Regions from separate parts of the Homo sapiens genome. Here regions 2, 3, 4 and 5 are each linked to region 1. The links come from fine-mapping of genetic effects on gene expression. A gene starts in region 1. Each other region holds a variant in brackets. All regions are shown on one strand. Distances are between the middles of the regions.

Evidence for each region. PIP is the estimated chance that this variant, and not a neighbour inherited with it, causes the effect.
Region 2: its variant is the best candidate, but not a certain one, in a credible set for the expression of ADAM12 in whole blood (TOPMed, PIP 0.81).
Region 3: its variant is the best candidate, but not a certain one, in a credible set for the expression of ADAM12 in fibroblasts (GTEx, PIP 0.61).
Region 4: its variant is the best candidate, but not a certain one, in a credible set for the expression of ADAM12 in whole blood (TOPMed, PIP 0.52).
Region 5: its variant is the best candidate, but not a certain one, in a credible set for the expression of ADAM12 in testis (GTEx, PIP 0.52).

Annotation. Positions count from the first base shown.
Region 1 is chr10:126,384,565-126,391,074 of GRCh38, reverse strand. ADAM12 (ADAM metallopeptidase domain 12) reads left to right here and starts at 2,598. Exons shown (of 23, transcript NM_001288973.2): 1 at 2,598-3,017. The coding sequence starts at 2,930.
Region 2 is chr10:126,131,748-126,138,257 of GRCh38, reverse strand. It overlaps ADAM12 (ADAM metallopeptidase domain 12), which reads left to right. Exons shown (of 23, transcript NM_001288973.2): 5 at 2,598-2,674. Among named protein-coding and RNA genes, the nearest start is that of FANK1-AS1, 160 kb to the right of the region's middle. RefSeq lists an enhancer at 1,881-3,080. The variant CA/A (reference allele first, on the strand shown) is at 2,782.
Region 3 is chr10:126,224,450-126,230,959 of GRCh38, reverse strand. The region is part of intron 3 of ADAM12 (ADAM metallopeptidase domain 12); the gene reads left to right. Among named protein-coding and RNA genes, the nearest start is that of ADAM12, 160 kb to the left of the region's middle. The variant T/C (reference allele first, on the strand shown) is at 3,062.
Region 4 is chr10:126,104,801-126,111,310 of GRCh38, reverse strand. ADAM12 (ADAM metallopeptidase domain 12) reads left to right here. Exons shown (of 23, transcript NM_001288973.2): 7 at 1,471-1,536; 8 at 2,647-2,718. Among named protein-coding and RNA genes, the nearest start is that of FANK1-AS1, 130 kb to the right of the region's middle. The variant C/A (reference allele first, on the strand shown) is at 3,442.
Region 5 is chr10:126,289,024-126,295,533 of GRCh38, reverse strand. The region is part of intron 2 of ADAM12 (ADAM metallopeptidase domain 12); the gene reads left to right. Among named protein-coding and RNA genes, the nearest start is that of ADAM12, 96 kb to the left of the region's middle. The variant A/G (reference allele first, on the strand shown) is at 2,508.

The sequences.
Region 1 (6,510 bases):
GGTTTAAAAGAAATTGGACTTTTACAGTCAACATTAACAATTGAATATGAAAGAGCGAAAATAAATTGATCATTAAGAGAAAATGTATACAAGGCCCCCAGCCCAGTGCACAGCACATGTTAGGTCCATTGTGAATAAACCATTTAACCAGTCAGAAGGATCCGAGAGGCCAGTGGCTGGGCTCATCTGCAAGCAAATCTGGCCCTTTGAGCTGGAAGAAAACAATTTTTAATTCTCTTGCGTCGATGTGTCTGAAGTTCTATGGGCCACAAGTATCAGGATCACCTAAGTACTTGCTAAAACTTGTCCTTCCCAGACCTTTCTAATGAGAATCTCCAGTGCAAACGCCAGAGGAATTGAATTCTTAACAGACATCCCAGGGATCAGGTGGGTTGGGAGACATTGCATTATTTCACCTGGTGCTCACAACCACCTGGGAGGTTTGTATTTTACCTTCACTTAACAGCTGCTAAAACTGAAGGTTGGAACTCAGCCTTAAAGAAACAGGCTTTATCTTTAACAGATCTGAGGTTGGGCTCTGACCTACTTCACTGTGTGGTGGTGGGAAAGCTACATCTCTATGCTGCAGTTTCCTCATCTGTATATTCAGGACTTAAAAAATGAAATAATGCAGGTGAAAGACGTTAGCACAATACTCCGATTATACGAGGTATGTAATGAATTATGAAGTAGTAAATAGTCTGTTTTCGTGCTGCTGATAAAGACATACACAAGACTGGGTAAAATTATACAGGAAAAACGTTTAATGGACCTACATTTCCACATGGCTAGGGCAGAAGACATGAAGGGGCAAGTCATGTCTTACATGGATGGTAGCAGGCAGAAAGTGAGAGAGAGCTTGTGGAGGGGAACTCCTCTTTTTAAAACCATCAGATCTTTTGAGACTTATCCACTACCATGAGAACAGCACAGGAAAGACCTGCCCCCATGATTCAATTACCTCCCACCAGGTCCCTCCCACAACACATGGGAATTCAAGATGAGATTTGGGTGGGGACACAGCCAAACCATATCAGTAAACAAGCCTAATCATTATTAACTAGGTTAAGTAACTAGCTCACACTGTCCAATAATGATGATTTATCAGTTTGATCAGAAAGAAAAGTCTTTGAAGGCAAGAGGCTTTCTCGTTTAGTTTCCCAAGTTCTAACATAGGGTTGCTCATGTAGATTGACTGAATGAATGAACAAAAGAAGTACACTGCAACGCTGGTTGGTAGTACGGTTAGATATGACACAGGGCTTGAACCAGGCCTGGTTTCCAGATCTGGTACTGAGATATGGCAGCATTGGGAAGGGGGCTGGAGAGCCTGTGCTTCCCACTAAGGTTTTTTAAAAAGAAAGTCCTGCACCTTGTTAGGAGGATCGACCTGGGTTTTGGGAACACTGCAAAACCTGCCGTGGGAGGGAACTCCTGAGAAAACTCCTCTGCAGTGGGAAGAGATGGTATGGAAGGCAGCTTCCTCAAATGCTGGATAACCGCCTCCTAGGAGTGGGTGCTCCGTCAGGAATCGGTGCGAGGTCGCAGGACCAGGATGGAATTTCTGCAGGTGGTCCTAGGTCTGAGCAGCACAGTAGAATCACCTGAGGCTTTGAAAACTATTGAGCTCCACGCATTGTGGGAAACTGAGTTAACTGGTGTCTGGGGCTGGCAATGTCTTTAACTCTTACTATTCTAATAAGTCCCCAAGGTTGGGAATCATGGTAACCCGCAGGGTGGGCATCAGCCATCCTCCATAGCTCCAGCCATTTCTGTCTGTGCGGGCCCCCTCGCTGCTGCTTTTCATGGTCTCCCTGAGGGCCGAGCGAGGCTGAAGAGGTGGGGTCAGCCCGGAACAAGGATGAGAAGGCAAGGCGCACCATTCTTTCATTGGTGTTTCTCCAAACACCCTGGGCTCCCCTGGCCTCACAGCCTGGAGAGTCTCATTCTGAAAGCGTAGGAGGGCGCCCGGGAATCTTTTTAACAAGCCAACCCAGGTGCTTCTTACAATCAGGAAAGTTTGGGGAACGTCACTGTACACCCTTTTCTGGGTCCAGGTCATGGAATGGAAACGTGAGCCAATCTATCAACGTAAAACCTAACACTGTTGATCAAAAGTAACGCCCAGGTGTCTTGTGCCTGCGAGTCCAAGCTTGTTTCTCGGGCGAGAGATGCCCCTTTGGGCGCTTAGGGCCGGGCGGGGTCGCGCGCCGGGCTGTGGGCCGCGGTGGAGACCTGACCCGCACTCCGAGGGTTCCCAGAGAGCCGGGGAGCGAGTAGCAGAGTCATCGTTTCCAGCTTCAGCCTGAAAAGCTGGACCGTGCCGCCGCATGTGCGCTTGGCAGCCGGGCGCCCCGGGCCCTGCGGCCACATCATCCTGGGGCGGGGACGTGTGCGCTCCGGGCGCCCGGACGCCACTGAGCCACGTCTGAGCCGCCCACCCTCGGGGGTGAGCGAGCCGCGGCTCGGGGCGGGACCCTGGCGGGGGGACCCGAGCGGTCTCTAGGACCCGCGGGACGCCGCCAACTGGCGGGGGTGCGGGGGAGACAATAATTTGTTCCGCGGTAATAAGAACGGTGACTGCTGGCCGTGGATCCATTTCACAGGCCTGCCTTCTCTCACTAACGCTCTTCCTAGTCCCCGGGCCAACTCGGACAGTTTGCTCATTTATTGCAACGGTCAAGGCTGGCTTGTGCCAGAACGGCGCGCGCGCGCGCACGCACGCACACACACGGGGGGAAACTTTTTTAAAAATGAAAGGCTAGAAGAGCTCAGCGGCGGCGCGGGCGCTGCGCGAGGGCTCCGGAGCTGACTCGCCGAGGCAGGAAATCCCTCCGGTCGCGACGCCCGGCCCCGGCTCGGCGCCCGCGTGGGATGGTGCAGCGCTCGCCGCCGGGCCCGAGAGCTGCTGCACTGAAGGCCGGCGACGATGGCAGCGCGCCCGCTGCCCGTGTCCCCCGCCCGCGCCCTCCTGCTCGCCCTGGCCGGTGCTCTGCTCGCGCCCTGCGAGGCCCGAGGTAAGTCGCCGAACTAGGGCGGCTCGCTGCCCGCCCCGCCGAGGGCACCGCACGCTGCGCCTGGGCGCGCCGAGGTCCAGGGCTGCCCCGAGGGGCGACGCGCCCCGGCGCATCTCCGGAGCCCCGGGGCTTGCGCTTCCAGCGCGGCGAGACCGACCCCCCCCCCCCAGGTGCCAATTCCTTGGGGAAGGGCGACACTTGGCCCGCAGCCCCACAGGAGCCAGTACCTGCCCCGGAGGGCACAGCCTCGGGACCGCTCCCCCGTCCTCACCCTCTTGGGTGACATTTGCAGATGTCTCTGTATCTTGACATTTACACGTGTCACTCGGGACGATGCGTGTCGGGTCCTCTTGCTGGCCCTATCCCGCAGTGAATATCCCCACCCCAGGCTCCGGGCCAGCCCTTCACCAGGTTTCCTTTCCAGCCCCGCCTCCCCCGCTAACACACTTAGGGGGGCGCGCAGCGGCCCCGCAGGTGAGGCAGCCCCCTCCTCCGCAGGTGTGCCTGCTGCTCTCCACAGCAGGCTCTATTTTCATAAACTGACTCTCTTACCTACTTCTTTAGTTTCCTCTCTGCCCCTCTTCCTGGCTTCCAGGTCACTCCCTAGCTGTCAGTCGCAGGCAAACTTTAGCGGAATTCTCCCTCCTTCCTCCACTCAGTTTCTCCGCCGTAAATAATCGCCCCCATCAACTTGGTGCACAGCGAGAACTTACTTAGTTTAACGTACTTAGTTTTACAGACTTAGGTTTTCCCGAGTTGTAGCCCCTTAAAATCGGGCACCTGTGGCTCCCGTTTGCACAGTGAGGACTCACCCAGCAGGTGCCTTTTTAAAAATCCGGCAACTTCCCCGGGTCTCCGCCGCCGCCGCCTTCTTTCTGCCGCCCGGGGCGCTGTCGGTCCACCGATGAACGACTTCCCTTGGCCGCAAGCTCTCAAGTTCTGTGATTCTATATAACAGGCATTTATTTTTCAACAACTGGCCTAAATCACGAACCGTTACCACTTTATGATACGTTTTATTTTGCGATTGCCACTGCTGCCCTCCGCCCCCACCGCGTCTACTGTAATGTGGCTAAAACCCAGTTCTTGTTAAAAGCCACACTGCGAAGACCAATTCGGGGATAAATGATTAAATACAAAGATTGCACAAAGCAATGAGAAAGTCAAGAAAGAATCCTGCTGAGGGTTTAAAGAACTCTACGACCTGTAGTGAATTGTGCTTTGAAAGACTTTTAAACAAATTGGTCCTTTTGAATGTTTATTAAGAAAGAACTTTTTAAAAAACGGAAAGTGTCTCAAAGTGTGCCTGACATGGTCTTTAACTTGGCACGTGCTTTGTACACATAAAGAGAAGTCTACTGAGCAGGGACAAATTTTTTTTTTGGAAGAAAATGTTTATTAAATCCAGCTAATAATGGGAAATTATTTCTTGTGTGTGTGGGCGGGGGAGGACTTTTACTATTTTATGAGTTCAGCTTTGGTAGAGAGAGTGTTTCCTTAAGACAGATATGACCCAAAATAGAAAACCAGGGAGGCCTAAGCACTTTGAATGGGTTACCTATTGTGATATATTCCAGGATTCACTGCTTGTTTACCCTTAGATTCTCAGTATCAAGTCTTCAATCAATCAGTGCCCCAAATCATACCATTGAGGCCGTATAAAACGCCAAACATATAATGAAACATTTCTTTGCATTGGCAAGAGAAAAGGAGGAATTACTACCTGTTGAGTCTGAGCATATTCTGAGTTTCTCCCTAGCCTTGTCTGTACCCTGAGCCCTGGCACAGTTGCCTACTTGGTACTTTCTGGGGCAACTCGGCCTAACAAGTCCAAAACAGAACCCTAGATCCCAGACTCTCTAGTTGCAAATCATTCCCTCCCCAGCCTTCCTGAACCCAGTAACAACCTCCTCTGCCTTCTCCACATGCCTTGTGCTGACATGCAGGAAGTCATCCCTGTGTCCCTCTTTTTACTCCGTAAGCCACCAACCTCCTAAGTATATTCCCACCTACCCACTTCCTTACATCCCGAAGTGTGCCTTTCCCAGTCCAGGCCACATTATAGGAAAAATCTCTTCTGCAGAAGCCTCTTATCCCTCTTACCCAACGGGCCTACTGGCTTTTCACCTTATCCCTGCATGGTATATTTTCCTCCACAATAGAGCCAAAGTTATTATTTTCAAACATGAGTTAGAGCATTCAAGTTTCCTGTCTAAAACTCCCCAGTGGCTCTCTAGCACCCTTAGGAAAGAAAATCCAAACCTCAGCATGACCTAATTCCTGTTTTCCTTTCTGATCTCCTTTCTTACCATTCTCCCTTTGCTCACCCTACTCCAGACACACTGCCTTCTCTTCTTTTCAACTACCCAATATAGTAGTGCCATCATTAAAAAAAAATTCAATGTTTGCACTAAGAAGACTTTGCAAATACTTTTCACTGTTTTGCCGTGCAGTGTTTTATGGCATTTCATCCCTCTTGTAACTTTTTGCTTTTCCTAGAGTTAATGATTGCCTTGTCTTGATTTTTGTTTGCTTTATTTTCTGTGCACCAAGCTGTGATATTGTGATATAATAAGAAATATGTCTCTGCCCCTGGTTCCTGGCACAGAACTCCTAAAATCCTTGGAATCTCTGGGGTATTAAGAGTGTCTTTTGTATGCTAATGAGCTTGTTAAGGCATGATTAGAGTTGGGACTTTTAGTGCCACCTCCCTTGCAACCTCCAGGGAGGGGAGACGGATTGAAGGTTGACTTGATCGCCAATGGTGTAATTAATCATGGCTGTGTAATTAGGCCTCCATAAACCCCCCAAAGGACAAGGTTTGTAGAATTTCCAGATTGCTGAGCAAATCAAAGTTCCTGGAGGGTGGCGTATCTAGAGAGGACACAGAAGCTCTGTATCCCTTTCCACATTCTCTGCCCTTTGCATCTCTTCCAACTGTTTTTCATCTGTGTCCCTAATTACATCCTTCATTAATATAATAAACTGGTAAATATAAGCAAGTGTTTTCTGTGGTTCTGTGAGCTTACCTAGCAAATTAACTGAACCTGAGAAGGGGGTTGTGGACCCCCAACTTATAGCTAGTTGGTCAGAAGTATAGGTGTGACAACCTACTACTTGTGATTGGCATCTGACATTGGGGGGAAGTCTTGTGGGACTGAGCCCTTAACCTGTGTGATCTGATGCTTTCTCCAGGTAGATAGAGTCAGAATAGAGTTAAATTGTAGGACTCCCAGTTGATCTCTACTGAAGAACTGGTGGTTGGTGGGGAGAAACTCCCACACATTTGGGTGACCAGAGGTGAAACATTCGGTACTGAGAGTGAGAGTAGGGAGAATACTTGGTTTTTGGTTTTTCCCATCCCTTACGCAACCTCTATTTTACTTCCACACTTTCTGGAAGAACTATCAACCTCCTTTCAATATGATCCAACACATCAGGTAGTCTAGCCATGATTTTTTTTTTCCTGATGTCATCTTTCCTAGAGCCCCTC
Region 2 (6,510 bases), 250 kb after region 1:
TAAAAACACCAAAATCCAATTTACAAATAAGCAAGGATTTGAGTAGACATTTCTTCAAAGAAGACATAAAAATGGACAATAAACACATGAAAAGATCCCCAACATCATTAGTGATTAAGAAAATTAAAACCAAAACCACATTGAAATACCACTTTATATCCACTAGGATGGCTATAATTGAAAAGATAAACAATAACAAGTGTTGGTGAATATGTGGGGAAATTAGAGCCCTCGTGTAATGCTCACAGGAATGTAAAATGGTTCAGCTGCTTGGCAAAACAGTTTGGCAGTACTTTAAAAAGTTAAACATTGAGTTTCCATATAACCAGCAACCTTACTTTTAGACCCACGTGTCTACTCATAGTGCATATCCAAGAGAACTGGAAACACATCCTTACAAAAATGTGTACACATGTGTTCATAGTAACGTTACTCATAATAGTCAAAAAGTAGAAACAACTCATGTGCTCAACACTTGGATAAGCAAAATATGTTTTCATCCACAAGGCAGAAGGTGATTCAGCTGTAGAAAAGGAATGACATTCTAATGCATGCCTCAGTATGAATGAACTTGAGAACACCATGCTTAAGTGAAAGAAGCCAGTCACAAAAGGCACTTATTGTATGATTCCATTTCTATAAAATAACAGAACGGGCAAATCCATAGAGATAGAAAGCAGGTTAATGGTTGCCAGAGATGGAGGAGCAGGGAATGGAAAGTGACTGCTAATGAATATGAGATTTCTTTCTGAGGTGACAGAAATGTTTTAGAATCAATTAGTGGTGATGAGTATATAATATTGTGAATATACAACAAAACCCACTGATTATATATGCTTTTAAAAGGTGAGTTTTATGGCAAGTGAATTTAATCTTAATTTTAAAGGACAACTTAACTCTACCTGATATCAAAATAGAGTATAGAGCAATAGTCATTGGAACAGTGTGGAATTGGCACAGAAACAGACAAATGGATGTCTGTCTCAGTGGGCTAGCACAGAGAGTACAAAAGTGGCACCACAAACATACTGTGGGCCTTTGATATATGCCAAGGTAGCATGTCACATCAGTGAGAAAAGGAAAAATGGCAGCAAAGCACAGCTGGCTCTCATTTTTAGGGGAAAGTTAGCATTGAACCTCACAGTCCCACAAAAATTAATTCCAGATGGATTAAAGAGCTAATTGTCAGACTATAAAGATAGAAGAAAATAAAGAAGAACATATTTGTGACCCTGAAAACAGCCACCTTGAGCTATGCAAAAAATGCATGAAGAGAGCGACAAATGCATTTAGATTGATATACACTGGAAACTCTGAACAAAAAATACCATAAGCAAAGTTAAAAGACATTTCCCATGTAATAACAGGCAGAGTATTAATATCCTGAGTATATAAAGAACTTCTAAAATTAATATGAAAAAGCTCAACAGAATAATAAATGTCCCTGCAACCCCTTAACCCTATCACCCTCCTTTCATCGCCTTTTAGATGATCTGAGAATTTTGTCATCTACGTTGAGACCAAGAGATCATCTTAGCCCCTTTCCCATGGTGGTGTCTGGTTTTCTTCATGACTCAATTGCATCTGGTGCTTTTTCTTAGCAAAGTCAAGGTGGGTTTTGTTGGGCAGAATGACTGGACACCAAGCTCTGCGCTGGACAAAGTGCATGACTGTTGTCGTGTGTGAAGGAGCTGTGTGCTAAGGAGGGTGCAGTGGAGACAGACTAACACCTGAGCTGCTCAAAAGAGGAGCTTCTCAGAGGAAACCCTGAGAAGATGCATGTACCTTTCTCTGCAGAGACCTGCACCCAGCTGGCGTCCAGAGGATCTGAGTGAGGAGTACTGAGTATACTCAGCCACTTCTTGCCAGTCTGCCACTTAATTGGGGCTGCAGCATAACCTTTGCTCGATGATAAAATTAACCTTGATTCCGGACTGATATCTGTCTTCACTAAGGAAGTGTCTGTGCTGTGGTTTCTTTTTGTAAGCTGTGACATTATCAAAGAATAGAATATTGCAGGCATGACACACGGGAACTTTTGTCTTAGACTTAGAAGACCTTCCTATTTTTCTTTCCTGCCGAGATAGACTTTCAGCTCTCAATTGGGTAATTCAGTGAGGTCCCCTCCTTCCTTCTTCACCCCCACTTCCTCTCATCTGCTTTCCCGTTTTCATAAGCCACAGATTTAGGCCTTGTTTTATTACATTTCACAGTGTGCTTAAATACCCCCTACAGTTCTTCATCTCATTACAAAAGACAATTTACATGAGGGTAAAATGGCGATGTCAATGTGATTTGTTTTGCTGCTGGATTTTGTAAAACGTTCTGTATCAGGGCTTTCCTGTAGGGTGCCAGAGAGACAAGAGTGAAACTAGGGTTCATTTAAAAACCGCTGTTGGTAATCTGTAAGTAAATCAGATATTCCCGACATAGACCCTGGCTGGGTCATGTTGGGCTTTGCATTAAATATTAAGACTGTAGAACAATATTTTATGCAATGGAAAATTCTATAGTTAAAAACAAGAGGCAGTTGATTTATTATAAGTGGGCAAAAATGTGTTATAACTGAAATGGGATTCTCTCCTCCTCCCCTTTAGGGTCACTGTTACTACCATGGACATGTACGGGGATATTCTGATTCAGCAGTCAGTCTCAGCACGTGTTCTGGTCTCAGGTAAGTGGCCATGACCATGGCGGCTCTAGTCTTCAGCCATCTACTGCAGGCAACCTCTGTCTTTTCCTGCTCGTGCTAAAGCACTGAGAGTGAGTGATGGGGGCTCC[CA/A]GCTCAGCTACACCTCCACCTAGGCAAGAGAACACGGAGGCCCTCTCTCCACTGCTTACAAGAGCATGGCCACCCAGGATCTTAGCCTCATGTTCATGCCCCCTCTTACAGTGCCATCCTCAGGCCTGGTGGGGTAAAAGCGACTGAACTGGTTGAGTTTCTACATCCAAGCATTTTGTGAATTATTTTCCATTTATGTGGCTCTGATGCTTTATAATTCCCAGTGCTAAAAGATAGAACATTACATACCAATGTTGAAGCTGCTGGCTTAATGTAAATCTTAAAGGGCCTCCTCTCATTAGGAAACAAAGTAAGGAAACTAATTTAGCAACAACCAAGGTGAGTTGAATAGAGGCATGGATTGGTAGGGGGTTTGCTACTATGCTACGGGCATGATGCAGGAAACAATTACCTTCCCATGCTAGACAAGTCAACCCCAGGTGTTACTCACAGCCCGCTTCCTTCCACATCACAGTTATTGGCCATCAGGTGGCCCTTATGTGCTCCCCAGGAAAATCATTTTGTTTGATAAATTTCCAGCTGTTTCAGCCTTTTTACTGGATTTGCTTATCGAATTTGTGAACTAAATGTTTGTAACCTCAGAGTCCTGGGTAACTTTGGCCCAAGGCACCAAAGCATGATTCCATGGGAGGGAAGAGAGAGAAGGCCCTGGAAGGATATACCTGCTTGAGTTAAAAAGCAGAATCACATTCTGCGCATCAGCAGTTCCTGTGACGTCTTTGCAGGTTCTGTGTGGGATCATGGAGGATGAGAATATGCATGTGACACACACAACAACCACACACCTACCAGTTTATTCTTTGCTGCCCTCACTTCTACTCCAGCCAGCAGAGAATGAGAGTTCTATTTGCTCACATGTTCCCCATTGCTCAATACATCTGATTTATCTCTAAGTATTTACCAGCGTTGGTCCTTTCATGTAACTAAAAATAAGTACACAAAGCTATTCCTCTTCCTCGTTCATCCCGTTCCAGTCCCACTCAGATAAAAATGCAAGCTGGGAATTCCCCTCCCAGCTTTCTCATCCCTTGTGCATGTAAACACATAGTCAGAGATTGGGGTGTGTATTTGTTTATTTTTACAAACATAGAGTCACATCATATACATCATTCTACGGCTTTCTTTTGTCACCCAACCCTGTCTGTCTCTCCAAGTTAGCAGACACAGACCCAAATCATTGAGTGAACACACACATTTGCATGCACACACACATTTCTGCATACCTGCATTTTTTTAAAAGCATTTTTATGTCCTATTTATGCAACACAATTGAACTTTAAGATGTCTGCTACTCTGAAAAGTGAAGGAGGTGCCTTGTGGTTTGAATTTGCTTCTCTTCAGTTATTCATTCGTTCAGAAAACATTCCTTGAGTGCTTCCTCATTGCCAGTTCTGTTCTAGGTTCTGGGGGCACGGCACTGAACAAAATGCATTCTTCCTGGAGCACTTCCTAGTGGAAGGAACAGACAATGGACATAGAGTAAGATACATGATGTCAAGGATCATGGAGAAAGACAAAGCTGAGATGGAGGACAGGAAAGGCAACAGGTAGTCAGGGAGGTTCGGAAGGAGGTGAGGTGAGCCCTTTAGATGAGGTAGGTAGCATATCAGAGAGAAGAGCATGTGCAAAGCTCCTGAAGCAGAAAGATGCCTGGGATATTCCCAGAGCAGCGAGGTGGCCAGCATAACTAGAGTGGACAGGGACAGGGAGGCAGTAGAGAGAAATGAGGTCAGAAGGGAAGTGGAAAGGTAGGATCACCAGGGGTCACGAAGGTGATCAGATGTCCTTTGGCCTCCCCCCCAGTGATGGGTGCCAGGGAGCTTGGAGCTGAAGTGATGTGGTCTGACTTCACATTTTTACAGGGGCACTCCAGCTGCCAGGCTGGAAATAGACTGTAGGGAATGTGCACAGAAGCGGAGGCTTGGGTAGGTGTCTTCAGAGTAACTCTGGTAAGAGGTGGTGGGGCAGGCCTGGTCAAAGGTGGCAACTTTTGTGAGAGTCGAGAGACCTTTCCACGGGTATTAGAGAGGCTGGCGACTCTAAATTTTGTTAGTGATCTGTGTCTTAAAGTCACTTTCCTGAGGAAGCGTGGGGTGTGAGCACATGAAAGGACCTACTGAAGATGCAGCAAAATCCACTACCAGGCAGGGACTCCAATACGCGTACACGCCCAGCATGCAGAGTGGGCGCTCAGGAGAAGGTGAAGAAGGAGAGTTTGGAAGTGACAATTTAGAGCAAAGATGACAACTGTTCACCACCAAGGAGCTGAGGTACATGAGGGAGAAATTTTAAGTAATGAAGTATCATCCTGAGAGGCTGCAGGGGAGGTGATATCAGTGGAATCAGCCAGGATTCAGCTAGGGGAAGGAGGTAAGAGGAATATTCTGGAAGAGATTTGGATCAGGATAGGATTTGAGGATGGACCATGAGCCCCAAGAGCACAGTGGAAAGGGTTAGGGAAAAGGGAGTGGGGATAGGGTCAGTAGAGGATTAAAGACTTGTGGGGGATAAGGGGCCAGTTTTCATGGAAAACCAGTGCTTGAATTCCTGGAGGAGACAGAGATGAGGGGGTGAAATGGGATCAGACCTGGTGGCATCTGAGGTGAAGGTGAGTGACCAATTCAAAATGGATACTCTGGGACCCCAGGTAGATGTTCTCACCCTAGAACATGATAGTCAGGGTGGTGAATTAGCTGTGTGACGATGGACAGGTCACTGGGCCTCTCTGAGCCCCAGTTTGCATGGTGGGAAGTTTGCATGTTCAAACAAAGTTTGAGTTTGTTTCTCCCCTGTGATGGGTGCCAGGGGAGAAACAGTAAACAAATGCAGTGACCTCTAGGAAAGCCAAGCCCTGTGCCCACCTCTAGTGAGCATCATGAGACAGTCTTTGTTCTTTGATTCTGGGACTGGACTAGTTGAGGGGGGGGGGGTGTTCATGCAGCACTCCTGGGATAATTCCTTGCAAAGCTTTGCAGCTCCTGTAGAGACCAGGGCAGAGATACACAAGGCCATGGTAGTAAGGACCACACACACTTGGAAAGGGAAATCCACACTTTACTATTGTGCCTCTCTGGGGCCTGAAAGGTGGACCTCTTTCTTCAAAGGTCATGTGTTGAAGGCTGGATATTTTCAGCCTTCAATTTGGCATTAAGGTCATTGTGTGTAAAGAAGAGAAAAGCTGCCCGGGGGCGCGGTGGCTCACGCCTGTAATCCTAGCACTTTGGGAGGCCGAGGCGGGTGGATCACAAGGTCAAGAGATCGAGACCATTCTGGCCAACATGGTGAAAACCCATCTCTACTAAAAATACGAAAATTAGCTGGGCGTGGTGGCATGCTCCTGTAGTCCCAGCTACTTGGGAGGCTGAGGCAGAAAACTGCTTGAACCCGGGAGGCGGGGGTTGCAGTGAGCCGAGATTGTACCACTGCACTCCAACCTGGTGACAGAGTAAGACTCCAACTAAAAAAAAAAAAAAAACACGAATTCAAACTGACTTAAAGAAAAACAAAATAATGTGGAGATAGGCTTATGCTACTGAAAAATCTAGGCATGGCTGGATACAGGGTCCTAGCTAATATTATCACGGTCTATTTTCTATCTCAAGCCTCTACCTTCTTCTGTGTTACTTTCATTCTCAGGCACTATCTTAGCATGGGCTGCCATAGCAAAATACCATAGACTGGTTGGCTTAAACCATAGAATTTTATTT
Region 3 (6,510 bases), 160 kb after region 1:
TAGGACACAATTCCCTTAGATTTAATGCATGTCCTAGCTTAACGTAAAGGTAAAGGGAAAAAACTCTAAGGGATAAGACTGCAATAGTTAATAGTTAATCTGTAAGTTAAAAATGTTTGTTTTTATTAAAATATCCAAATCAAGGACAAGGAGCACATGATACAATGGAAAAAATATTGGCAGCATAAATATAGTGAATATATCATGAGCTTTTACAAATCAGGAAGCAAAAGACGTTCACACTGAATTTAAAAAGGGCTTAAGACAATCACAAAGAAAGTACAAATGACTAATGAATATGTGGGAAAACATTCCAATTGATTTATACTTAAATGAAAATTCAAATGAGGTCATATTTTTCATCTATCAGATTGGCAAAGCTTTTAAAAACTACAATTCGGTGTTGATGGAGTTTCAGGAGAGTGGGTGGGTTCTTACACAGTTTGGAAGAGTGGAAATGGATACACCCTTTGGTAGAGCAGTTTAGAAATACATATTAAGAATATTAAACATACAGCATTCGACTCAGCAGTTTCACATCAGGGATTTATCCTCAGGAAAGTATAGTGTATCCCAAGGCATATGCAAAAGTATATTCATTGCAGTGTGGTCATGATAGGCATTGAAGATGTTGTATTGAACGTCAGATAAATGCCAGGAGCAGTGTTAGCTGCAGGAAATATAAGGTGTGAGGGGCGGGTAGAAACAGATCCAGTCCCTGACCCCTCTACGAGTGTACCCTGCATCTGAGGTACAGATAAGTAATTTGGCCATAAGAGCCCAATGCCATGAGTGCTTTGGGGGCTGGAAGATCACACAGAAAAGGAACCTTCCCTGGGCTTGGTAAGACAGGAAAGGAGAGTACCACAAGAAGGCTTCCTGGAGGAAGTTGCAGCTCAGCCAAAATGGAAGGATCAGTAAGAATTAGCCACATATAAAGGGCAGGTAGGAATTGGCCAAGCCAAGGATGTGGACTGACACCTTAAGGGCCAAACACTGCTGGAGAAGCACAACTCGTTGAGCACCTGCATGTGGGATACTAGAGTGCGGCAGCGGCCAGGTCACAAGGGCCTTGAGAGTCTTCAATAGAAAGCGCAGAAGCATGACATCAGTAAGAGATTAACAATCATGCCTTCGAGCATTTACTGGAATACGGGGCAGAGCTCCATCTGAACAGCAGGCATGAACAGAGCACGAAGGGGGTTCCCAAAGGAAAAGTGAGGTTTGCAACTGGAGGAAGGAGAAAGAGTGAGTGGAAGGTAGGGAAGGAGGCGGGAGAGATAAAGAGAATAGGACTGGAGGGAGACAGTGGGGGGGAAGAGGAAGAGAGGGGGAGAGGGAGGGGGAGGGAGAGGGAGAGAATGCACATGTATAGGGAAAGAATGGAAGGAAATAGATACATTCAATGCTAATTAATATTTTCTAATGTGTTTTATTGGAGACTTGAAATTTATTCTTTATAATTTTCTCAAGTTAATATATATAACTTTTTTATTCTACAAACAATTTTAAAAGGCTCTTACAATTATGCAGCCATTAAAATGAATGAAAGTCTTCAAATGCATCAAACATAATTTATCCTCAGAACTGCCATGCCCAGACAAACCCAGAATTGAGGCTGAGAAGTCACAGGAGTCAAACAGGATTGGAATTTGGTTCCTACAGGCTTTTTCTCAAAAGGCAAATTAAGAACTTTCAGGCCAATTGATAATATTTCCCCTCCTAGATTCCCCTCCCTCCACCGGAAGCCCCTGCCCACCTCCTGGTTCCTCTCCCTCCACCGGAAGCCCCTGCCCGCCTCCTGGGAAGGGGAGGCTCTGAGGGCATCTGCACATGTGATCACTTGGGTAAAGAAATCCCCAGGCTCCCTGCAGAAGTGTTTCCATTAGCGTGGTCATCTCAGGTTTTTCTCTTTTGTTTTGTTCTTTTCCTGGTAAACAGGGGAACCACAAAAAGGTATTGGATTTTCTTTCTTTCCATACCAATTGATTTTATATTGTCTGACAACCCTCTGTACACACTGCCAGTAAGAATTTTTTTTAACCTTAATCTATAAAATCTTACTGCATTTAATCACTGGATTTACATTTGGTTTATTTTATACTTGCAAAGAAAACAGCCACTTTTATTTAAAGAAAAGAGGAGGCTTGAACATATCAGAAGCTTCAGCTACATGGGTGGGAGGCCTGGCCCATGTCTACTGCAGAGCATGGTTTGGGGGCAGAAGGATGAATTTAAAGTCCACCCCTTCCTCCTGATAATCAGAACTTAAAAGCTCCAGGAGGAAGGACAAAAATGTGCAACAAAGTGTTTCATTTAGTAGGAAATTGTCTTATATTTCCAGAGTGTAAAAATACCCTACTAGAAACATGATTTCTAATTATCTGATTTCATTCTGGTATGAAATAGACTTATGAGTAGGATGTTTTCTATTTAAGTATTTCAAAAAACATATGTTTAAAAATACAACTAAACCTTCTTAGGGTTTTATAAAAATTAAATCCTTCTATCTGAGCCCAACATTGTACATTTGAAGTTACTTTTTGAAAATCTGTTTCACTTCTGTTCTTTCAGCACCCAGTTCTTGGTCTTATATGAAACGATCTCTTGGAATCATGCATTTAATGGAAGTTGAATGGGGAAAAAATATCTTAGGATGCACTTTATGGATCAAAAACTCTTACATTCCAAGTGTTAAGCCTTTGTTAATACCAATCGTTTGTTGGCATATTGGGGGGTACAGTTACGACTTTGTGAACTTTCAGAAAATGTTGATTTGCTTTTGTCAATGGGACTTGATTTTCATTCCAGAACCCAAGCATTGTTAGGGGTGCAGGCTTCCCCATCAGATGTCCTATCTGCTTTCAAGTGAGGACTGGCAGTGTCTGGGGCCGTCCTTGACCCCTTTTCCCTCCCCTGGCTTCTGGAAGCTCGTCTCCACCCAGACATACCCTGATCCAGGGGAATCATCACAGGAAGGTCCCCACTGTCTCCTCCCTAGGGACTCCAGGATATGAATGGTATGAAAGGCATGGCTCTGGGGGGTGCTGCCAGCTCACCA[T/C]CTGTCATGACTCAGCTCCCTCCTCACTGTCCTCTCCACTCCCAGCTCTCTCTCTGCCTCACAAAAATATTGCCATTTTTTTCTGCCTCTTTGTTTTCTTGGCCTAGTGAGGTTGTCAGAAGGATTGTTCAGTGGGGTCCCTGGGAAGGAAAAGGAGGGGAAAGAGAAAGGTGATGGGGGTACTCTCTCCAAAGCAGTCACTTTCTGCTGAGACACGGTGCCTTCCTGAATGCCATCTTCTTATCTGGGCCAGGGCTTCTCAAACGTGAGCATGCCTGCAAAGCACTGGGGATAATGCTGACATGCAGATTCTGAATCGGTGGGTCTGGTGCGGACTGAGAATTTATGTTTCTAACAAGCTCCTGTGTGTCGTACCTGCTGCTGGCCCATGCTGTCATGAAAAAAGTGTGCTACTTGAACATCAATGAGATCGTCTATGTAGGGGGCTTAACAAAGGGCCTGGCAAATACTAAGTGCCTCACAATGTGCGTGAAGTTGATGATGAAGAGAAAATGATGATGGTGGCAATAGTGAAGATGATGATGATAACAGCGGTGATGTGGTTATGATGACAGGTGGTGATGGCAATGATGATGGTGATAATAGTGATGATGGTGACGATGATGATGGTAATGATGGCGATGGTGATGATGTGGTAATCATGGTAATAGTGGTGGGCATGATGGTGATGGTGGTGGTGTTAGTGATAATGGTGATATGGTGATTATGATCATGGTGATGGTAGTGACAATGGTGATAATGATGGTGATGGTAATGGTGGTGGTGATGTTGGTGATAATGATAGTGATGGTGGTGGTGACAGGGCAAGTATTGATGATAGTGATGGTGGTAATGCTGGTGGTAGCAGGAAACACTTATCTTCATAGAAATGTTATTGTTGAATCTGCTGTACGATAAGCAGTTATTTTCAGAGAACAAGCATCAAGGAGAACAGAGAGCAAAACAGGAATTGGTTCACTTGGCCAGTATATATGTTCATATTTCCACCCAGAAATTTAGTGCAGTTTGCAAAACAGCCTTAGTCCTTCAGGCCATAAGCTCTGAGGGCATAACTGAGTCAGTCATCATTGTCCTGTGTCCTGGCACCCGGTAAAGTGCCTGGCACATAGTAATCGCTCAGTAAATGTTGGCTCCTGTCCTCAATTACTGAACATTTACTATTTCTGTCCTCAATTACTGAACACTTACTACAAGCCAAGCTCTCTACATGCATTTTTCTCATTTAGCCTTCACAACAAACTTGAATGGGAGGTATAATTATTAACCTTAATTTGCAGGTATGAAAAACTAAGTCTTGCCTAAGGTCCCTCAGCTGGCCGGAGGCAGAGCCAGAATTCAGGCTCAGGCCCGTCAGAGTCGACAGCCCAATCCCAGTCCTCTTGTGATGACATGTGATTCTGGAGCAGCGCCACCATTGCATGCATGTCAGCTGTGCCCATGTTGCCTTCACACCCCTTGCCAACGCAGGGCTGCACACGCATCCCCTCCACACAGAAGCTCCTCACCAGGCAAGGCATGTGCCCACCAGCCACGCCCATGCCCACCCGGCTTCTCCTCTTATTCCTGCTCCTGAACTCGTGCATTCTTTCCACATGGTTCTGATTCTGTCCTGGAGAGATTTGCTCAGGCTGACATCCAGTGGCTGAAAGAACAGCACTCCCACCCCACTCCCCCCGCCCCCTCCCCCCACCACCACCTTTCCCCAGGGATTATGCAGAGCACCCGGTTTCATTGCTGGGCCGTCACCTTTAACCCATCTGTACCATGTGCCTAGAGCACCATCCTGGCTTGCACGGGTGGTCTGTGCCAGACATCTTAGGTCTGCAGCTGTTCCCCCATAAGATGCCTGTCCCTGCTGCCCTTTGAGGGTACTCAAGTTGAACCCCAGATGCCCATTTCATGTTTGATAAACTTTGCTCCGCACTCCCATTTCTGTTAAAGCTGCGAAAGGCTTCGACTTTGTTCCATTTGGAAGGGAGGCTGGAGTTACCACGCTCTGGGCTCTTACATCCTGTCGTAACATCGTTGTAAGGGTTGCGTTGTGACTGCAGGAATTCCCAGTTGCAGTTCCAGGAAGGTCAGAGAGGAGCAACGTTCCCAGCCACAGTTCTGTGAGCTATGGTTCAGACTGAAGTCTTTTGCTTATTTTGGTGATAAAAGCTGAACATGGTTTGTGCTGAAGTTCCAGCTGGTTATCGGAGTGGCTGACCAGGTCAGTCTGCTTTGTGAAGGGGAATCCAGGCCCCTCTTGCCCTCATTTTGCAGCCTGAACACATGCTCACTTTCCACTCCCACGTGTGAAGCATGAACACACGCACACCTCCGCCCAGTTATGCAGTCGGGCTCACGGCTAAAAACCGATTTTCCAAATGATCGGGCAGGATCACGCATGGATGACGGAAGCTCTGGCTCTGCCCCCACACTAATTGCCGTGCGATCCCGTGCAGGTTTCTTTACTTCTCTGGGCGTGTTTCCTCACCGGCAAAATGGGAACACTTAACGAGGAAACTTTGCAGAGAGCATTCAGCTTTCAAACTCTGACTCCCCAAGTGTGTGACATATTTTTTAATAACTCCTTTCTCATTATTTCCCTTTTACCTCCTTGCTTTGAATCTTGAGACACAACAGAAAACATATACATGGTGCTTTAGCAAAGGCAGCCAGCTCCTGGCCACCCTTTCCAGGGGTCGGGCAGAGGTGTATGTGGTACAAATGGTCAGGAATGTTTTTCATCCTTGAAAAAAGCCTTCTTGCCCTTCTGCCACCAGCACAGCCTCCTCTGAAAGCAGTCGAAACAGTGGGCTCAGAGGATCCCGCCCTCTTCGGGGGTGCCCCCTTTCTAAAGAGTTGCTTCTCACTCCCAAACCTGACTCAGAGGCGGCAGGAGCAGTATCTGTGACTGACAACAAAAGCCGTTCACGTAGAGGAGGAGGGTGGCGGGACTGGCTTGGCTCTGATGCTTCCCTGATGTCCACTTTTCCCGAGTAATTGCTCCCTCGTCTCCTGCTGCAGCACCTGCCTGGGATCCTCCATGAAACAGCTGGCTGGGGCTGCAGAGTGCCTCCAGACACGCCCCTCTCCTGTGTCCCTTCCTGCTCACTTGTAGGTGGCAACAGACGTTTGACCTGACATCGTGACAGTGGCTCTTTGGCAGTCCAGGGCCAAGGTGAGCCAGGGAAGGCAGGAAGCAGAGGGGCTCTGGAGCTGGTATGTTGTGATTCAGGTGAAGCCACGGGCTAAAGACTGCAGTATTATGGGAAGATGCCCTTGGAACCTCCCTTCGTGACAAGGGCCGTGCAACGCCCCCACCGCCACCCAGGCACCTCCCCAGGCCCCTCCCCAAGAGTCCATCCCCTAGAGCCTTCTAAGAGCCAGAAGAGCCACTGTCCATCCTTCCTGTGCTTGTTTCTCCCTCTCCTGCCTGGGGG
Region 4 (6,510 bases), 280 kb after region 1:
TTATCACCATAAAGCATGCCTACAACATATAGTTACAAAGCGTAACAGTTTCTTCTTGTAACATTGTAAAGATATGAGAAATTGTACCTTTCCTGGTGCTTTATTTTTCCTTTTCCATAAGGTTTCCAGATATCTTTAGGAACACCTAAATTCATGAATTAGCACAGCTGGGCAGCAAGAAGGAACACTGCTATAATACAAACATTTTTCTTGTAAAAGTCTGTTTGGAAGATCCCGGACTGATGGGGATTTGTTTTATAAAAGATGTTTCCCTCAGGATTATGTGACTGGAAACCTGATTCAAAGCATACTTTTGTGATTTTCTTTTGCTTTTGTCTGAAAGAGTGGTTATAACATGCAAGTTTTAAACTTGAAGCAGTGTGTGTAGTTAACTCATAAACCAGCAATATCAGTCATCAGGACCAAAGACCAACTTAACCCCCACTTCCTCCAACTGCATTTTATGGCAGAAACAGAAGGCTTTGTTTTTTGTTTTTAATGTTTGCTTTTTGAGACCACCCTCCACGAACTGCTTTATTTCTCTTAAAAATGCATTTGGAATTCTTCCAGTAATTCACAGAAGAGTGTGAATGCTTTTTGAGGAAGTTTGATTAAAATGTGATCCACTTCAGGAGCTGCCTTTGTGGGGGACGGGGTTCCTATTTCTGCTGCCTGAATCATCTCCATTCATCCACTTCCATATCCACTTTCCATGTTCTCTCAACTGTCTCACTCTTACGAAATCCCTGTTCTCCAGGGGCATATTGCAGTCTTAGTTTTTTCTTAACTCTGTTTCTTTCCGTTCTCTTTCTCTTTGCTCTTTTTTTTTTCTCCTCATACCTTTCTCACTTCTCTGTTCATTAGTCTGACAGTTTCCTTTTCTCCAGACCACCCCGGTCTTCCATTGCTTCTAACTAGATTTTTACATTATCATTTAAAAAATGATTATACAGTTCCTGTTCAAAATGTATTCTCCTCCACTTTTCTTAAGTCTCAAAACAGGTACACTTGGACCATAAAGACAAAGGGAACAGCCACAGTGCATTGAACTCCGTCGTCTTCTCTGATGACCTTCAAATGTGGTCATCAGAGAAGACCTACACGTGGTCTGAAATAAATGACTTTTGACTGGCTCCTGTTCTAGAGAGTGCTTTGGTTTTGTTTGTTTATGTGCTCGTTTTGTTTAATAATCTTGATTTGCTGCTCCAATAATCCATGATTCAGCAGAAAGCTTAAACTCCTTTTTAAGGGTTTTCCAAGTGGAAATGGAAGCTGGTTACTCATGTTGAGAAGGTTTTACAAAGAGTTGGTTGGAGTTGGGGTAAACTTCTAGATGGAATGGAGGTGTGGGGGCCTGGCGGGGATGGGGGATATACATTCTCAACCTAAAGTGTTTAGATTGAGAGACATTGACAGTCTTAATGCCAGAGAGGCATTAAGAGAGATTAAGTGCATGTTTACTCTTGGCAGCATAAAAGAGAGACCCTCAAGGCAACTAAGTATGTGGAGCTGGTGATCGTGGCAGACAACCGAGAGGTAAGAACTTTTTAAAATTTCTCAGTATGGTTGGTTAGAGATAAAAGAAAAAAGGACATGTTTTGCAAGTTATTACTTGCTTTAATGAACCTCATTTCCTATGTGCTCTTAAAAGCAATGGAAACAACCCATTGAAACAATGGTTTTCTGATTTTATAAAGCATACAATATTAAAAATTTATTTGATATATAAAGTAATGGCAAAGCCTGCAGGAAAAAACAGAGTTGCTCTATAGCTCAGCTCTCCAAACAAGGAGAATTAACTGAGAGGAATGACAGAAGGCTTTAGATTATATTCTAAAACATTTTGGGGAAAAGTTTAGTCTTTAAAATGGGACATTTAAAAAATATCCCATATGTCATTAATCAAAATGAATAAATGAAGGTATGAATGAAGGCTATAGAGACACAGCAGAAAAATCCTCCCCTCTGAGCTATAGCTTGATACTACATTCATTTTTTATTTTAATTAATTTTGAATTAGTTTTTCTAAAGATTATCTTCTCTGTATTTACTGCCTCATTGGCATATATGAATTGGGTGATTGGGTGATATTTTCTCATAGACTCTTTCAACACCTATGAATGAAACAGGCTTGACTATTTTTCAGAAAATGATTCCCATTCTGGAAGGTCAGATTAGAGAGGGGAATGGGAAATTTGTTGATTTTTTTGTCTATTCTCCTCTGTATTGTTTGACAAGCTGCCATGAGCTTCTATGACTTTTACTTTTTAATTTTTAAAAACAAATATAAAGAAAATTTCTCAGGAAGTTAAAATCAAGTTGATGATATGAAAAATGGCTTTGGACTGACTTCTAGTTGTCTGTTTCCTCTTTGCCAAAACAAGTCACTGCCTCCATCATTTATGAGGCTGGAAAATTGCAGAAGTTGCTGTCTTGAGAGCACTTGGCTTAGGCAAATTTCAGGGAATTTCAGGGAGTCCCCAGCCGGGAAAGTTAGTCGGCAGGATGCAAGCTCATTTTACCGTGAACTGTGGAGGGTCCCCAGTGGTTTGTAAAATCCCAAGACTTCACATTTCCAGAAGCCAGGAAGATGAAACGTGATTGATATTCTTGCTGGTATTAATGCTGCCATTTAAAATTGTTAAGTTTCAGAGGCAAGGAAAAGATCTGGAAAAAGTTAAGCAGCGATTAATAGAGATTGCTAATCACGTTGACAAGGTAAGTTCTTTTTCAGTAGTTAAATCATTCAGATCATGTAAATGTTTGGAAATGAGGTTGGGGGACCTCATCTGACTTAGCAAGGAGATGAGGTTCTGCCTCTGGGCCTTGGTTTGGAACTGTTTCCTGTCCTCTGAGTGTGTAATTCCTGGGTCCTGGGGCAGCTTCAGGAGATGCCAAACCACAGCAGTCTGGACTATGGTGGCCTTGGTGACATGTCTTCCTCCAGGCTCTCTTCCGGTCAGGTGGAATACCAGTCTGAGGGTGTTTTGGACTTCCCGATTAGCTCCAGAACCCCTACAGAGTTCACCTGATCCTTTGGATTCCTCCTGAGCCGGGCCTCTCCCAGGTCTCCCGATGACGGATCCCACAGGCCCCTTCAATCTGTCCCCATCATTGCAGGCCTGTACCAATGTAACCCTGAGGGTGGGCTTGCATTTATAAGGGATCCATAGGCTTCACTGTCCTGGAACACAGAAGTTGACTTTCAGCTAAATCAGCTATTGGAAAATCCCTCGCCAAGAACAAGTAGGTCAGAAACTCACCTTTCACAAAGATGATTTCCTTGCTGGAGGAGCCCCTGCAAACCAGGTCCTACTCCTGGGGTACTTGTTCACTAACCGCTCCTCACACTGCGGGCCGGCAAAGAAAATGGCAGCGCTCTCTGTCTAAACCACCTGTCCTTCCTCAGTGTATCCTGCTGGAGAGGATGTTGGCTATTTG[C/A]TGCTGACGACCCTTAGCCTAAAATAGGCTTCTCACAAGCCCCGCATATTGGAGTTGCCCTGTGAGCTTCTGAAAGCATTGCTGCCCTCAAGGGGCAGGGCGGGGGGGAGGTTAGACCTCGAATTTTCAGAAGCTCCCCAGCAATTCTCATGTGCAATGTGGATGGTGACCGCTGTCCTAAAGCAACCATAGTCTCTCAGCAATACTGAGTCTCTTGCCTGTGGGGACAGTGTGAGAAGGGATCTGGTCATGGCTGAGCCTTTCACATCCATGGTCCTCTGAAACAGCAGATTTTACACATAGTGGTTTGTGAGGGTGCCTCACTCTAGCCTTGTTTCCAAGCAATCTTATTCGATTTGAATTGCATTCTCTAAGTTTTCAGAAAAATGAAGGCAAAGGTCCTTTCAGAAATTCGGCTCCATATTACAAGACCTTATGCACTCTGCATCAATAATTCAGAATGAATCAGATGTGGTCCCTCCACTTGAGAACGTCAAGGCTGTGTAGGGAAGCAGACATGCAACCCACACAGCATGGTCCAAGGCATTAAGAACTAGATCCATGCTATGAATGGAGGTTTATGGGGATGCAGAAGAGAATCACTTACTTCTTCCCAGGGCCAGGGAGTCTTTGCAGGGAGAGGATCCTCAAAGGTAAGTTCAGTTTCACTGTGAGCATAGCAGAAGAAGGAGTATGTGTGATGTGGACATGTATGTGCTTCATGTACATGTACATGCATGTGTGTTCCTATATGTGTTCATGTGTGTGTTCATACGTGTGTGTGCCCTGCATGCATGTATGTGTGTTTGTGTACATGCATGCTCATATTGTATGCAAATGTATGCATGCAGAGCTAGGGCAGGAGGAGATGAAGCTGCAAAGATTCACGGTGCTCAAGGCCCCGGCTGTTCTACGAAGCCATCTTGATGTTATTCTGCAGTGAATAGAGAGCTAGGTGAATGTTTTTAAGCAGGGGAGAGACACACATGATAGTAGAAAAATATTCCTGCAGTTAGTGTGGAGGGTGGGATAACCAAAGACAAATAGGGCTGAGAGGAGCCTATTGCATAGAAATGATAAAGGCCTGAGCGGGCGCGGTGGCTTACGCCTGTAATCCCAGCACTTTGGGAGGCCGAGGCGGGCGGATCACGAGGTCAAGAGATCGAGACCATCCTGGCCAACATGGTGAAACCCCGTCTCTACTAAAAATACAAAAACTAGCTGGGCGTGGTGGCATGCGCCTGTAGTCCCAGCTACTCGGGAGGCTGAGGCAGGAGAATTGCTTGAACCCGGGAAGCAGAGGTTGCAGTGAGCCGAGATCACGCCATCGCACTCTAGCCTGGTGACAGAGCGAGACTCCATCTCAAAAAAAAAAAAAAAAAAGAAGAAGAAGAAAAAGAAGGGATAAAGGCCTGACCTGACCCAGGGCAGGGGAAGTGGGGAAGTGAGAAGGACAAGGATTGAGAGAGGCTCGAAGGGATGTGTTTCCTGATTATTATTTTTACCAGTTACTGTGTGCCGGGCTCTAAGTGCTTTGCACACACTCTCAGGTACACACTATTGTTCTTATTTTTAAAGCAGAGGAGGCTGAGATGGGCAGAGGTTATTCATTTGCAGGACGAGGGATGAGTGCTAGTCTTGCCAACTCCCAGCAGCAGGGGCTCTTGGCTTTGACTCTACTCCCCCTACTGTGAGTCCCGGGACCTCATGATGACCAAGCAGAGGCTGAGGGCGAGTGGGAGACCACATGACCGCCAGTTTCGTTGGAGTGGAGGGGCAGGTAGACGATGCTTCATACCCCAGGAAAGGGGGAGCAGGAAGAGGAGTTTGAAGGGCACTCTGAACAGTCAGAGATCTGGGTTTGCCACTCAGAGAGAGGCTATGGCTACATGGAACTTTCTGGAAGTCAGAAAAACCCACATGGCCGTTGATATCCTGGGATGATATTGCCCTTGTCCACCTTTGAAGCAGGTCAAACTTCCTGGCAACCCCTGCCTGTTGATGTGTTTTCAGTAGTTACTCTTTGCAGATTCAACTTTATCCCATAGTCCAGGTGCAGGAGAATCCTGGTGAAAGGCAAATCCTGGCAGGGGGGATGAAGGGTGGGTCTTAGAGGAGACATCAAAGATAGCACGGCAGTTAGAACTGGACCTCGGTCTAGACTGGACATTAGAACCCCTGGAGGGGAGTTTGTTTGTCTATTTGTTTATATGTTTACTTTAGGAAATATTGATTCCCACACCTTGGCCCAGGGATTCTGATTTGATTGACCTGGCACAGGGCCTAGGCACAGATATTCTCCAGGGTCCTCCAGTTATCCTAACATGAAGTGGGACTGAGACGCACTGGCCTAGAGGGCGGAAGGCTTAGGTGCCTGAGCTGGGAGCGCAGGTGCCACTCCAAGGTGAGCGAGTTGGACCATTGCCCCAACGGCCTCAGGCTATCCTCAGACTGTCCAACGAGAAGAAAACACGAGTTCTTCTTAGACCTCGGGAGCAAAAGGAAATGATAAACTATATTAAACCCAAACTGGAAATTGCTGAAGCCCCATTTTAAAAAAGGGATGTGTTTGGGTCCTCTGTGTTTGTATTTCTTCACATTTATTCTAGGTTATATCTTGCTTCAGTTTGCAAAACCAAAAATGAGCAATTAGGGGTTTGTTAATAACTTGCACTGGTAATTAAAAAACACTGTGCCTCGGAAAAGTCCTAACGGACTCCGTGGAGTTTGCCGGCCTGGCTGTCCTTGTGTTTCTGGCAGGGAGAGAGCCGATTTGCTGAGCACACAGCTACCCCTGGCCCTGACATCCCTGTCCATCCCCAGCAGACGCCAAAGACCTTGGAGGAGATACCCAGGCCCCCTGGGAGACTTGGTGCTTCCAAGTCTATGAACAGATGACTCCCAGCTCTGTTACACAATTCTAAATTTCAGTTTTTCAACTCTACAAATGAAAGTGTCTCAGTCCAGAAAACAACGACTGTGCCAGTGGCAACTTCCTCATTTGCTGAAGTCTTGGCTCTCCTGGACCATTCTAACTTAATAACTGCTTGCTGCGTGGAGAAAGAGGAC
Region 5 (6,510 bases), 96 kb after region 1:
TATTTTTGTGGTAAGATGTTATGGTTTGCAGCAAAATGAAAATTCAATTGTAAGAACAGTAGTGTTTTCCTGGATTGCAGGGCAACGGAAATATATTCTTAGACAAAAGGAGCAGAGGTATGACCAATACAAATGGCAGTGTGGTGTAATCCTTATTGTCAGTCACATGAAGTGCTTCTTATGTGCCATCCCTGTCCAAGTTGTGATAGAAACTATGTCATTTAGTCCTCCCAGCTGGCATAGTATGACTTACCTGTGAGGGACACTGGGCTCAGAGAGGCTAACAATGACCAAAGCATCACACAGCTAGTAAGTGATGGAGCTTAGATTTGACCCCAGATCTATGTGATTCTATTTTTTGGGGGGAGAGGGAGAGGAAGCTATAATATTAAAAAAAAATGAGTTATAGTTTCCTCTGAAGCTCTGATGGGTTTAACTGACCACTTCCTTTTATTTTCCACTGAGCCTGGATTTTCCATTTGTAAAAAATTAGCAAGGAAACCTTTCATTTAAGCTTGATGATCATGTAACAGTTTTTGGATTTCCTTATTCCATTGCAACTTTAGGTAAGACCCTACTGTATACTTAGGGAGAATACACACAGGCACACACACACATACACACACACACACACATCTACACACAATTTTGTTTATACAAAATTTCTTCTAGTTAATAATGCATCAGAAATCTTTTCTGAACTATTTTCTCTGAAATCATTACAAATAAAAGATTTGTCTGTAGGAGTTCAGGAATCTCTGTATGACATGATATCTCTAGAAAATAATGGAATTTTGGTTCTTACTGGTTGTAAATCATGTTGGTCAGTTGTAAGTTATTCACACCCACGTGCTACGTCTGTTAGCTGTCTTGACTCTTCCTCTGTTTTCCTTTTTTTCAAGTCCACATTAGTTTTATAGTCCAAGTAAGTTGATTATTTACCCAGTTTTTCATCATTTAAGTCAGGTCATTCTTAGGAATGGAGCAATCCTTTCCTCTTCCTAGCAGAACAGGGAGGAAACCTGAACAGCCGAGACTGTCGCGGGAGAAATCCTGCAGTTTCCACAGTGACCCCTTAAATGCTGTGACATTTTCACTCCTGTGGTTTAGTTTCAGTTGGGATCATCCACGAAGGCTGAAAATACGCTAAGGTTTTGGTGATCACACACTTCTGATCATTCCAGCCTCATCCTCAGCAAGGACTACATTTTCTATTTTGGTCTGAAATTCATCTGTGTTAAGGGTGAATTTAAATACTTTGTCAGCAAATCAACAGCCAAAATTCTAGTATATCCACTTATTCCATGTAATGATGACTTTGACTTTGTAGCAAAAATCAAGATTGACTCTCAGGGTGGACAGCCCGTACTTAGCACAGTGTCAGGTTCTGCCCTGTCAGCATCTGATGAAGGGATGAGCGCATTTTATGAGGCATTAATACAGTTGATCCAAAAACACATTGATTTCATACTTTCTATATACAAAGAAGCAATGCTTGAGGCACATTGATGGGTCTTCAAAGTTGCCTGAGGCCTCAAGAGGCTTGAAGCCCAGTGGGTAGACAGTGTTTGTGAGTAAACAGAAATAACTACATTTCAGGTAAAATGTGGCAGTATAGTTAGAAGAGCAGAGATTGGAGAGAAGAGCTCTACCTGGGCCTTCATGGAGAGTTTTAAAGGCCAGGGCATCTGAAGGGGCCTTGTGGAAGATGGGGAGTATTTTAGGAACTAGAAGGAAGGGCAAAAGAAGAAATGGGAGGCCGAGGTGGGTGGGTCACCTGAGGTCAGGAGTTCAAGACCAGCCTGGCCAACATGGTGCAACCCTGTCTGTACTAAAAAACAACAAAAATTGGCCAGGCGTGGTGACATGCACCTGCAATCTCAGCTACTCAGGAGGCTGAGGCAGGAGAATTGCTTGAACTTGGGAGGTGGAGGTTGCAGTGAGCCAAGGTCACACCACTGCACTCCAGTCTGGGTGAAGAGTGAGACTCCATCTCTCAAAAAACAAAATAAATAAAAATAAATGGGGTGCTCATTCACTTGTTTCATGTGTATCCCACATCATCATCCTGTTTGACTTGAGGCCAGGGATTGTGAAGTCAATACCTGTAGGGGCCAGGCCAGGGTTACAAACTAGTGAAGCTAGCCAGACATAAGATGACAGGTAAGCTTTGCCCCTTGGGCTCCATGTGTGGATCCCATAGGGCAGGTGGGGCTGGGAGAATTGGTGGCCTCTAGTTAGTTTTAGCCAACTGTTACCATTGAAGTAGAAACCAAGGGTTGCCATTTTTCCTGGTATTTCTCCCCTCCCAGAAGCTGCACATCCAGATTTGTCTGAGAATTCTCCTGACTCTTAGGTGTTAGCAACTTAATCAAATTGACAGCACTGGATGGCGCCCACTTTGGGGCCATGCCAGTGATAGAGCTACAGGCTGAAGGAGCCTTGTGGGTTGCTGGCCTGTGAAACTTGGTCGAGCAACAATGGTTCTGCAATGTGGTCCCCAGACC[A/G]GCAGCATCAGCATCACCTGGGAACTTGCTAGAAATGCAAATGCTTGGGCCCCACCCAGATCATCTGAATTGGAAACTTGAGGTGGGCGCAATGATATCTGTTGTAATAAGCACTCCAGGCGATTTTGATGCTTTCCTGTGTTTGAGATTTTTTATTTTTATTTTTTTTACCTTTTTAAATGACTGGAGAAAAAAATTCAAAAGAATATTTCGTAACACATAAAATGATGGGAAATTCAAATTTTGGTGTACATCAATAAAGTTTGACTGGAACACAGCCACATTCATTTATATGATCTATGACTGCTTTTGCACTGCAGTGGCAGAGTTGAGCAGTCATGACAGGGACTGTATGGCTAACAAAGCTTAATGTATTTATTATCTGTTCCATTACAGAAAATGTGCATCAACCCTGCTCTAGAGCACTGAATGGGATGGAGGAAGAGGAGGCAGGTGGAGGAGCCTGGGATGCTCAGGAACCTTGGCTTTGTACCCAACTTTGGCTTTATATATGAAGGGCAGAAGAATTATTTGAGCCCTGCATTAATAAAACAGCTCAGGGAACAATATACAGGACTGGCTGATGAAAGAGTAGCCAGGGGAGAGCTGGAATGAGGGCCATGTTGCAGGAATAGAAGGAACTGTGGAGGTACTCCAGAGAAGGAATTGCAAAACTCAGCCACTAATTCAACATTGGAACCGAGAGGAAAAAGAGAGTCAGAAGAGGGTACCAATGGGAGCCAAAAGGATGATGATGACAATAGGAAAAACAAGGGGGTCACAAAATGAGGAATGCACTCGGGGGAGTCGGGAGAAATGTGAAATGAGCTGGTGAGTTTTCAGCACTGTAGCCTTTGAGTTGCCAGGGAGAGATCTGCTGATTGTGGCTTGTGGGGCATTTGCAATGCATGTGCTGGGCTCAAGAGAGCAGTCAGAGCTGGAGATTTGGCGTCGAGCATCTTCTACATAGAGGACCAAGTTTTTCATAAGTATGTCTGGGCTTCATGACTGGCTGATTTTTCTAATGTTTCAACGGGAAAAAAAAAAAGCTGAACCCCAATTTTCATTAGCAAAGTGTACAGATTGAGGATGTCTCTGTCCCAGAGCCAGACTGGGTTGAAATGGAAAGTTATACCCATAAAGGTTGCAAAGCCCTGCAAGCCTGGTGAAGTGATAGTCTGGTTAACGTGGTGGCTCCAAGGGGCCACACAGCCAGATGACCCCCAGTCCTTCTCAAGTCCTTCATCTGCTTTTGCCTTGAGTCCTCAATCCCAGAGCTGCATCCATCACCCCCCGAGCCCTGGGCTTTCTGACTCCATCTCCCAACTCCAGTGGAGCTTCTCCTCCAGCCTCAGCGTGCACCTCTGTCCCATTCCTCCCGTGCCATCTCCCTCCTGATGCTGAGGCTCTCATGAATGCCTCAAGACACAGCCAGGCAGGCAAGCAAAGGGAAGAGCAAGTGACACTCTAACTTCAATTTTTGTCTGCAGCCATGAAATGAGAATTCTCTTTGCAAGATCTTTATGAGGCTTGTAGTGTGTGTTTTCATGGTGCAATTTGAATGTGTTTTCTAAAAAGTTAGCAATTAGCTGTAATTCTGTTTGTAATAGAAAAACTTGTTTGCATTCGGCCTCAGTACATAGTGACTTGCGGTGCCTCTGTGATCGATAGCAGGATTACTCTTTAAAGGGCTTAGTATATTCTGCTAATGTTTATTTGAAAGACATTACAGTGATGCTTTATAAATGGATTTTAGTCAACATATGAATGGGGTATTTTTCTAGAAGACAGCTTGCATGCAAACAAACTAGCAACTTAAGCTAACTTCCCCTGACTGACAGTTTTGAAATGTGTTGTAGGAAAAAAAAATGGTACATGAATGTTTCCAGACATCAAATTAGTTATATAAATGCACTTTGAATGGGAAGCAAGCTTTCTGGTTAATAAACACAGTCCATGCTATTCTACCACTGGCTGTGTCTTAGAAGGCCTCAGAGGCCACTCCAAAAACAATGCTCTGTGCTTTTATAATATTTTAATGTCCCTGGTTATATCAGTAAGCATACATTAGAAAGTATTAGCTTAAAACATTCTACACCAAAATGAAGTACATTCACATATTTTGTGCTGCATCTTACAGGTCTTCTAGTACCTTCTATCCCCTTCTATGATTGGTCGTACACATAGTACGTAAGAGCCTCTTCCCATATAGAAGAAGGGGGAAAGCTAAGCTGCTTTCAGCTATCAACCCAGGACTGGACCCAGTGCCTGGCTCATAAATAGGCCCTCAGTTAATAAATGTATAATATTCCTTTTTGAAAAATTTTTGAAGCGTCATTTATTATGCCCATTTTGATCTAACTATAAAAAGCATGAAAAGGGTGCAATTTGGGAAATTAGCAATCGATAATAAGTGAAACGGTATCTTGTCACTGTCATGCTGTGCAGTAGCAGTTTGATTTGTGATTGGATTTCTGTAATAAGCATGCATTTTCATTTTGTCACGCATGATGGTTTCCAAACAGCCTTTTTACCATTTGAATCTCATAGCGATCATACTAATTAAGTCAGTTGTCTAGTGCTGCTATAACAAATCACACCAGTTTAAGTGGCTTAAAATGACACCCATTTATTATCTCACAGTCAAAATCTCAAGGTCAGAAGCCCAGTGGGCATGGTTGGATTCTCTGCTTCAAATCTCACCAGGTTAAAAACAAAGTGTCCACAGGACTTCCTTCTTGGTGGAGGCTCTGGGGGAGAACCCATTTCCTGCTCCTTGACGCACTGGCGGAATTCAGTTCTATGTGGTGGTAGGAACATGGTTCCTATTTTCTTGCTGGCGGTTGAGGGCGGTTCCCAGCTTCTGGAGACACCAGGTTCCTTGGCTCATGGCTCCCTTCTGGCACCTTCAGAGTAAGCACAGTGGGTCAAGCCCTCTTGTCACATCTTTCTGACCCCAGTCATGAAAGATTCTCTGCCTTCAGGAACGCTTGTGATTACATTGGGCCCATCTGAATAATCCAGGGTGAGGTCCCTGTCCTTAACCTTAATTGCATCTTCACAGTCCCTTTTGCCAAGTAAGGTAACATATGCACACATTCCAAGGGTTAGCACATCTTTGGGGACTGTCATTTCTATGACCACAATGATAGGAAAAGCGTTTTGTTATCCCATTTTCCTTGTAAGAAAACTGAGGTCCAGCAGAGTTAAAAGATTGGCCCTCAGTCCATGGCCCACAGCTGCCGTCTGACCGTAGCCTTCTAGCCTGAGGCCCCTCCTACTGTAGCCTCTTAAATGGAAAAATGCTACATTTCCAAAATGAAATAGTTCTTTGTTGCTTAAAATTATTGTTCCTTTGCAGTCAAAAGAGGAGGAATTGCTGCATCTCCATAAACTTTCAACCTAGGATGCTCCTAGAAATTGATCAGGGTGTTCCAAGACCTGGGGTGGTCCGAGGATGCTGAAATGAACTGGGTCTTGGAACCCAGCCTAGGCCTTCTTCCCATGGTGAGCACACCTCCTCATCAGCCCTGCTTTCCAGTGCAGCTGGCATCGACACTGAACGTTGCAAGGGGCTGGTACCCGTGGATGTGGATGCCAGGCACATGGCACTGGGGCTACCAGTGGTCCTTATGAGCCCAGGTGGTACGTGGCTGACAGGAAAGACTCATCCCGGCCTCGGCCTTCTGCCTCCCCGCCTTGGCATCTGATGGTCCTCAGCAGGCAGCCAGGTGCTGGCAGAGATGCCTGGAAGTGGGAGAGGGCACGGGGCAGCAGAGGTCTGAGGAGGTGGTCCCACAGCCTGGCAGGGTTTGGTGTCAGCTGGGGCCTGGTCAGAGGCTGACTTCAGCAACATGATGTCAACACACTATCCAGCCCCCAGGCACCAAGTCACCACATGGTCCTGTCCCCAAGCCATTGTGTCACCACACGGTCCTGTCCCTGGGCCACCGTGTCACCACATGGTCCTTTTCTCTGGCCATCATGTCACCACACAATCTTA